Linked DNA regions of Homo sapiens. The protein of the gene in region 1 interacts with the protein of each later gene in a pairwise test. Each region holds a gene or a part of one and is shown on either strand. Other genes may lie near its edges.

Region 1 (5,167 bases):
AGGGTGGGGCGGGAGCAGTGGGGCTTTCCTGTCTCTCAGTACCACTGAACAGCAGCAGAAAAAGTTACACTTACCTACCAGCCACGTCCACTTGGAGTGCAGTGATTCTCCTCCATGGGAATTCGCTATTTGCCCCTTGGACCTGTGACTGGGAAGGGACAAGGAGGTAGGTCCCTTGAACAGCCAGCAGCTTAGGAGAAAAACAGGCCCTGACCTTTCCCACAGATAGCTCCCCAGACCTGGTTCGCGTGGTTCTCTAGCCTGATCCTGGAGCCTCTCATACTGACCGTGGCACCTGGCCCAGGGCTGCTCCTCATCATGGCTGAGAAAACAAAGGCAGAAAGCCAGTCAGTAGGGAGGACTGTGGAGACAGCCACAAGGCAGGAGCTGGGTGAGGCACAAATCCAGCCCCCAAAGCCTTGGGCCAGCTCCTCAGCCTCTTGGGAGACAGCTGGTCCTGTGCTCACTCCCCTTCACTGACACCTGCTCTGCCTCTGACGCCATCTAAACAAAGGAGACATCCCCACGCAGCACCAATAAACAAGCCCCTGGAAGTTGCCACACACTGTGGCAAGAGTCCAGAGCCTGGGCTGGGCACATGCCCTCTGCCCATCTGTACATTCAAATCCTACTGGGCCCTCACAGCACAGCCCTCACACTGCCGGCTCCATGGTACTTCCCCCAACCCAACTAAACCTGTGCTGCCCCTGTGCGTGGCATATTCATCCCTGTGACCTTCTCTGTGCCAGGGTGGCTGATAAGCCAGAACAGTCCTGACTGTGGAGTCAGGGGTCTGGCCATCCCCATCCCACCATCACAGGCCTTACTCCTGGGAAAGACGCCACAAACACCTGCTGCACACACAGAAGGGTCAGGCCTTGCCATTGGAGGTGATTGGATTAACAATTTTATTCTGCATCCACTACAAAAGGGCTGGTGTTTTGTTCCAAATGTTTAGCTGGGAGGGCTGTAGGGACCCCTGTTACCCCCATTAAACACAGTAAAGCATGGATCCAGTCAGCCCCCTGCTGGCAGGTGTGGGCCTGGCAACTACACAGATCCAACCCCACCCTCCTGGGTGCGGCCAGAGGCCAAGGCAGTCGCCCGAGCTCCTGAATCCCAAGAATGGTTCTGGCAAGTACTGCTGTTTGTTTGTAGGGGCAAAGAGTTAAAATAAAACGAGGTTCTGCCATGGCTAAGCCTTGTGGAAACCAGACCCCAAAGCCCCTGCCATGCCAGGGGTCTCAACGCCAGACGCTTGTTATGGAGGCACCAGCAGGTAGTGGCCCCTGTAAGCAGGGCCAGAGTCGGGACAAAGAGCAGGAGTGAAGCAGCCAAGAGACAGAGGACCAGGCTGGAGCCAGTGGGCACGCAGGAGCCTGCCTGGGAAAAGCCGGGGGGCAAGGCTGGCATGGGAATGAACACCTGCTGGTGACACCTCTCTGAGCTTCAGTTCCCTTAACTAGAAAAATAGAACAGGCCCGGTGCGGTGGCTCATACCTGTAATCCCAGCACTTTGGGAGGCTGAGGCGGGTGGATCATGAGGTCAGGAGATCAAGACCACCCTGGCCGACATGGCGAAACCCTGTCTCTACTAAAATACAAAAAGTTAGCTGGGCGTGGTGGCGTGCACCTGTAGTCCCAGCTACTCAGAAGGCTGAGGCAGAGAATCACTTGAAACTGGCAGGCGGAGGTTGCAGTGAGCAGAGATCACACCACTGCACTCCAGCCTGGCAACACAGCGAGACTCCGTCTCAAAAAAGAAAAAGAAAAACAGAACAAACATCGACCTCAGGGGCGGCTGCTGGGAATGTCAACAGGAGCGTGTGAGACTCCTGGCAGTCCCAGCCAGAGCTTTCCTTTGGAGCCTGCCCAGGGCACAGAGGTGGCAGGGTGGCTAACGGTGTGCAGACCGCTCACTGAGCAAGCCTTTCCCTTGTGTAGGACACCCCAGGGCCTCACATTCTCTGAATCCACACAAGGTGATGGATGGCTTTGCCTCTTGTAAATGAGAAAACTGAGGTTCAGAGAAGGTTTGTAAGCTTGTCCCGTGTCACCAGCTGGTGAGGGAGCCTGAACACGGAAGCCATGCCTGCCTGACTGGGAAAGCTGGGCTCCTCACAGCACTGCCCTGCTCCCAGCTGTCGCCAGGGGCCCCAGGGCAGGCAGAGCAACTGCGTTCCCGTGGCAGCACCTCCACCTGGAGGGGCTGGGCAGGGAGCACCACACTGTCAACTTGGAACAAACTTTTATTTTGAATGCTGGTCTGATCAGTCCACGGCCAGGGGTAGGTGGTAACTAGAAACAGCTGGAAGGAGGGAAGGAGAGGGGACCAGCAGTCCGCAAGCAGGAGGAAAGGAAAGGGTTGGGGACAGGAGGAGGCAAGGCTGAGGAAGGACCCAGCCAGCTGGGTGTCTGCCCCGGCTAGAGAACGAACCACCCCCACCCACCAGCCTACCCTCCATCTGTGGCTTCAGTGCAGAAGTCAGTCCAGGTGGGTTCAGGCCCATGCCACCTTCTCTGGCCTGCACAGTCCCACCCCAGGCAGGGGTTCTTCCAGAAGGCTAAATGCTCTGTCCTAACCCTGGAAGTGTCCTTTCACTAACCCCTGCCTGCCCGCCCCACGCTCCAGTTGGGTCTTTCAAACCTGGAGCTCAGGCCTTCACTACTGTGCTCCTGTAGCAGCCACAGGGGTGGCGTGGTGGGGAAGATGGGGTTCTAGTCTCAGCCTGGCTCAGGGAAGATGGGGTTCTAGTCTCAGCCTGGCTCAGGGGAACATCCCTCCACCCCTCCAACAGGAGGTGCTACAAAACATGATCCTGAGCAGACCCAGACCCCCTTCTGGTAACCAGTGCCTGAGGCCCAACAAGAAGCGGGGTGATGGGAGGCTCCAGGCCGGGCAGATCAGCGAAAGCTGAGGGCAGCCAGGGCCGGCCCAGGCAAACGCAGGATTGTCTCCAAGGGGAAACCCACCAGCTGTCTTTGGGTTGGTGGCAAGGGTCAGGGTCAGGGCCCGAGATGGGGAGAGTCCTATAATCCCATCGCCATTCCCCTCCACATGTCTCCAGGTTACAACCAGAGAGCTTTTGGCATGACCTGAATCTGTGGGCTTAAAGGGAAAAAGGAGGAGAGAGAGAAAAGGGAAGCCACTACTTTCTCCCTGTTAAAATGCCCAAGTCCTAGACTGGGGGTTCCTGCTCTGGCAGCAGCAGACACCAAATCCCAGAAGCCCCTCCACCCGGTCTGGCTCCATGGAAGGTGCCCCTGAGTGCCAAGAGGAGCAGCAAGATAGGGAGGGCGGCTCCTTCCCCTCCTGACATCCCCTGACCGCCCCGAGGATTCTCAGAGACAGATACGCAGGCAGACAGCCATGGAGGAGAAAAGAGAGGTTGACAGGGCCCTGGGGGTGGCACTCCTGCACCACACACACACACACACACACACACACACACACACACACAATAGAGAGAGACAGAGACATATAATAAACAGAATAAAAACTAAGGGCCCAGATGTACAAAAAATGTGTGAGTGAGGAAGAAGGTGGGGAGGACAGTGAGAGATGGTCAGTCCTCCGGAAGTCTGGCTACCTTCGTCAGCTTATAAATTACAACCCCCCTGGAAAATGGGGGTGGGGGCAATGCGGAGGCTCCGGCTGTGGCCTGAGCGGGAGGGCTGGGTGGCGGTCATAGCTGCTCTGCCCATCTGGTGGAGTGGTGGCCAGAGATGATGACCCCTTGGGTGGTGAGGGTGGGCCAGGGGAAGGTTCAGCAGCCGCTGGCAGGAGTCACACAGGCCCCCTGGGACTTCACCTTGTGGCGCTGGCCCCCTCGTCGCCGGCCTCCACTGCTGGGCTTAGGCTGAAAGAGAGAGAAGGAGCTTGAGAAGCACTGGCCCATCAGGAGCAGGGCCAGAGAGCAGAGGTGCTGAGCAGCGGGGAGACAGGGACGGAAGATGCGTGAGCAGGCTGCGTGGTCCTCACCCTAGCCTGACCAGGAATTTACTGGGTCACTCTGCATGCAGCACCTCCCCTCTGTCTCTAAAATGGAGCCAGTGCCTGCCCTGCCTTCCTTACAGGGTGGGTAGGACACACATGATGAGGGTGTGAGAAGCGGCCGTTCAGAGAAGCACAAAGCAGAGCAGGAGAGAGAGAAAGGAAGCGAACGAACCAGAGGAAAGACCCATGGGAGACAGATAACAGAATGGACAGACAGATCCAGGCATAGCCTCCTTTTCCAATGAGGGGACAATGGAGAAAGATGCTGGGGAGAGGGGTGCAAGGGGCACCAGGCCTTCATCACGCCAGGAGAGAGTGCCTGTGGGAGACAGCTGGCAGGAGATGCCGAGTAAGAGGCGCACTGGCACATCCCAAAGCCACCTCCCCTTCAGGATGTGTGCACGTCAGGGAGGGGACAGAGGAGGACCCTCTAAGGCAGTGTCTCTCAAACCTGCTGGACTGCAGTGCACACATATATCACTTGGACACTCACACCAGCAATACTTGCAATACTTAATCTTACTATGAAAGGGAAGCTTCGACATTTTTCTGTTCTATTTTATTTCATTAAAACCAAATGCTAGTTAGGGCCAATTAAACTGGTTTCAGGTGGGCTGTATTCCCTGATTTGGAAGCACTGCCTTATAGCTTCTAGAGACAAATGCCTCATTCTTAGGAGCACTTCAGTGCCAGAGCTGTGGAGGAGACCCTCTAGCCAGGTTTGAGGCTTGCCTACATGTCACCCTCACCGAATCAGAGTAAAAGCCACAGCCCCCACCACCATGCCGAAGCTGCGAGGGGCCCGTGCTCACCTGAGGCTGGAGATTGCTGGACGCAGCTGGTTGCCCTGCCCCTACAGAGGAGGCTTCATCTCCAGGTGGGGGTGCTCCTACTGCTGGCCCACCAGACGGGCCCCCCTCGTCTCGTTTCGTCAGGGGGCCCTTTTTCGTCGACTGCATTTTAATCTGCTGCGGCTTGGAGTTCATTGGGGAGTTGTTGGTGGTCTGGAGGAGCTGTGGGAGCCATGGAGAGAGGCTGAGGCTGGAGCTGCGGGGCAGTGGCACTGGCTTGGCTACCCCCCACCCTCAGCCCCCTTCTCCCACAGACTCCTCATTCCTTGATCTTGCCAGTTCAGGGCAAGGCAGATGGCAGGAAGGCTGTGACAGGAGG
Region 2 (4,008 bases), on another chromosome or scaffold:
GCTTGAATTTTCTCCAGATATTTAATGCAAGATGCAATGTAGCCATATTCCATGAAATGTGGTTAGCAGTAGGGGAGTTGTAGCCCTATCGAATCAAAGTATTACAATACAGCTGAAAGCTTTATATAGACGTATTTCGGTTCTTAATTGCACTAATGCAGACAGTTTGATAGATAAGCTTCTCTCTTGTGCTTTTTCTACTTTGGGAGGTTATATACTTTAGATGAGAGACAAAGAAACTCTACTGGTTTAAGAGTTCTCAGTTTTACTTTTACTATAGACCTTTTTTCCCACCAGTTTAGATGGGAAGACCCAGCCTTTGGTATAAATAACTTACTTCCACAAAAATATTTAAAGGGTATCTTTAGTGTTCACTGTCAGTTGTGTAGTCTTTTGGTAAGGGGGTGGCTAGAGCCTCTTTACTCTCAGTAAGTGCTCTGGGCTGATGGATAAACACACTAAATTTAACACCCTGGTTGTTTGCAGCTCTGACAAAACCACTATTAGCAGTCATTGTGATGGCTTTTAGGGTGTCTCCCGTCCCAAAAATTGTTAATGAGCGGCTATTAATTTTTGAACTGGCCACTAGTCTCAAGGCACGCTCAGAAGGCTGGTCTGGTACCACATTAATTCGCTTAATTAACACAGTGGCCCTCTCTCTCTCCCCAGGTCCTCCTAAGGTATCTAAAATAGACTGAAAGTCCTTGACAGCAGATTCACAAGCAAACAACTCCTTGTCCTTCATAAAGGCCTCCAGCTGAGGTAGAACCTGCTCTTTCCTCTCTTGCTCTGCTTGTTCTGTGAGCACTTTCTCTTTGAAAATAAAGTGGCAGCCTCCATAGCTGAGGGCAGATACATATGTGATTAAAGTAGTAATGTCCAGATTTACTCTTTTGCACACATCGACCTTAATTTCTGTTGGAAACGCAACACTTGCTAGTATATTTTCTCGGTCAACTCTGGTCACCTGCAAAAGTTCAGGGCCCTCATCATCTGATTCACTCTCACTTGGTTGAAGCTCTTCAGGGTGATCTAACAGAGCGTTGACTGCTACTATGTCTCCTCTCACAGATATGCCCATTTCTTTCAGCTTCTCTGCCATGGGGCTGGAGACACTGTTGTAAAATGCAAAGATGATGTGAGGGTTGCTATACTGCACTGGCTGCTGGTGACTGGCCTGGAGGAAGTCTTCAGCCTGCTCAATGATGCTTTTGTCACCATATTGGCCCCTGCCCAGCCAGATGTTATGAAGAGCTTCAGCCTTCCGGCCAATGGCTTTCACCCAAGTATGACCACCATTTGCAACTACATCTACCACAAGGGTTTGCTTTTCTCCTAAGGTATCTGTATAACCAAAGACATGAAGAACACTAACAACTTCTTCCAGGTTTTCTGCTGATTCCACAATGGCTCTCAGGTGTGTTAGGTTAGTGCTCTGTAAATGAGACTCTTTAATAGCTACTTTCCCAGCTTCTACTTTCTGCAAGAATTTTAATTCTGCCTTCAATTTGCTGCACAGCTTTGCACCACCTTCTATGCCACCTTTTCTTGATCTAGAAAGTGATTCTGCTCTCTTGATCAGTTCCTTGGCTATGGCGATTCGTTCACAGAGCATGGAATGTGCAGACATGCTGTCAGCATTATTCCTTTCCTAGGGAAAGAAACAAGGCAAACTTCAGTAGTCTCCTAAAATTATGACAATCAATTCTTCACTGGTGATTAAAAACTTCAATCTAGCAACACAGCTTATGGAGGGTGAGTCTATGAACCCGGGCTTGTGTATGTCTCATTCTGGAGTGACTGCTTCCTCTGATAGCTAAGGAAAGGATGGCAGCTACACTTTTGAACTCTTCTTTAGGTACGTCTGACACACTTTAGACCTTCATTTCTTCAGCTTGAAAGCCATGGGGACACAGCATGGTCCTAGGTTAGGATACAATGCAAGAGTTGGGCAATCTGCTATATAAATAATTCCCTTATGTCTATCAGCGGCCTGTTTAACTGCTGAGAAATTTTAATAAAGGCGACAAAAATGCCGAAAACAAAAATACACACAGACTGGCTAGTTAGCAAACTGTCCAAAGCAAGTGTCTGTCCTAAACTGAGCACTTCAGCCTCCCTAACCTTTTCCTCCTTCCCGAGTTGGTCTCCTTCAACCGGCTGCCTCATGATTTCCCCCGAGGCTTGGGGTACTTACGCCAAAAAAAATCAACACTGCCTCATTTCTGCATTTGACGTCAACCCAGACTATTTTAAAAGACCGAAGAAGACCACCAACTTGCGTCCCACTCCCACTCCGACTCTGAAGGAAAATCCGAAGATGAAACTAAACTCCAAGGCTGCAACCCGCGGCGGCCGTGCAAGCGGCCCCAGCGCAGGTCGCCGGGTGGGCGGGCCAGAGGCCGGCGGGGCCTTCTCGGTGGGCTGCGGGGCCCTCGGCCCTGCCCGGCCACCTGCACAGCCGGGCCCTGCCAGGAGGGGCCGGGGCCGAAAAGCCCCCACCGCCAGCGCCGCGGCTCAGGGACCAGGCGCTGATAGCGCGCGGCCGACCCCCTTCCCGCCGGGCCGGCCCTGCCCAGCCCCCTCTGGCCTCAGAAGAGGCGCCCCGCTCCCAGCCTCCCCGCCTCGCTCCCCGGCTCCTCACCGGCAGCGCCAGAACCGCGAGCGCGAGCACGCAGGCGCGTGCACGCAGAGGCCGGGACCCGCCGGGAAATCTCAACCGGGCAGCCCCCACCCCGCTCGAACGCCGAGGCGGCTCCACCCGCGCGAGCCCCGCCGCCTCGGGCACCTCCTGCATCACGTGGTTCCGGGCCGGGTGACGCCAAACCTGCGATTCCCAAGCGGCAGCGCGGCCTCCCGAGCCGGGTTGACGCTGGCGTGGCGGCCATGTTTATTGAGGGCACCTGGCTTCTCCCGCTTGCGCCGCCGGGTGAGCCTGAAGGCGCGCACCCACCTGGCTCCAGGAAGAGGGACCGAGCTCGCGTGCTGGGCCTCACTCCCACTGGGGGCGTCGGCCACTCGATCGCAACCGGGTCGTAGGCATTTTGGGGGCTCATTTTAACAGAAGAAACGCTGGAGAAGCTTGTCAGAGGTGACAGCTGAGAAGTACTGCCTCTGGGACTTCTGCCTCCAAGCCAAAGCACTTTCCACTGCATTGTCCTGGGCCCTCCAAAGAAAGTGTGCTGTCCTTCTGAAGAGAAGAAATGATTGCATGGCTTCCGAGGGGCTGCCATATTCATATTACTGTAGTAGAGTGTCCAGAGTCACCCAGAAAGATTAGGGCTGTAAGAAAGTAAAGCTAATTTAAAATATTAAAGAGGACTTCCAGTTATAATTAATCCTGTGTATCCTGCTCCTTCTCCAAACTTAACAGTAAAGCAATGCTCCTTCTCCAAATAACAGTAAAGCAATGACAAAGGGAACAAACAAAGGCAAAAAGAACAAGAGAAGAGATGACTGCAGACCGGTTATACCAACACATTTTTGGAGGACAAGAGCAATAACTTATTCAGTCCTTACAGCGTGACAGACATTGTTCTAAGTGTTTTACACATTGTTCACTCCTTTAAACAACCTAAAAGGTAGAGATATTAAGTATGCTTTACAGATAAGTGAGCCATAGGGAGGTTACCTGAACCCAAGCACCCTCTTTGCAGATGGTGTCAGGAGAACTGAGCAAACTGCTTGTAGAAGGGGATATTTAGCCACTGATTCACAAAGCAGAACCCCAGAAAGCTTCAGGTGCCTTGAAGGTAGAAGGGAGGGCAGTAAATTGTTCAGGCAGAAGACTAGTTTAAGATGCTAAAGACAGGGCATCAGAGGGATTCCAGACACAAAGCCTAACAAAGGATGAGAGGTGCCATGATGTTTTCCTACTGAATAGTGCAATGCTAGCAGCCCCCTTCTCTGCCCCTCCCATAATGCAGGCACCCCTCTACCGCTCCCTACCACTATCTCCCCATAACCCTATTTTTCTCTGAAGAAATGAGTAGACAAAAGACCCTAGAG

What was found. The genes of interacting proteins can lie anywhere in the genome.
Region 2: the proteins of GTPBP1 (region 1) and C7orf25 interact in binary tests that used the Homo sapiens proteins (3 or more experiments, as listed by UniProt).

Annotation. Positions count from the first base shown.
Region 1 is NC_000022.11:38,729,305-38,734,471, reverse strand, and holds the end of GTPBP1 (GTP-binding protein 1), read right to left. Parts: intron 5,011-5,167; coding exon 4,810-5,010; intron 3,861-4,809; coding exon 3,768-3,860; 3' UTR 885-3,767; downstream 1-884. UniProt on the Homo sapiens protein: Promotes degradation of target mRNA species. Plays a role in the regulation of circadian mRNA stability. Binds GTP and has GTPase activity.
Region 2 is NC_000007.14:42,909,271-42,913,278, forward strand, and holds C7orf25 (UPF0415 protein C7orf25), read right to left. Parts: upstream 2,801-4,008; 5' UTR 2,645-2,800; intron 2,574-2,644; exon of another isoform or gene 2,198-2,573; intron 1,924-2,197; exon of another isoform or gene 1,791-1,923; coding exon of another isoform or gene 1,770-1,790; intron 1,652-1,769; coding exon of another isoform or gene 1,631-1,651; coding exon 365-1,630; 3' UTR 3-364; downstream 1-2.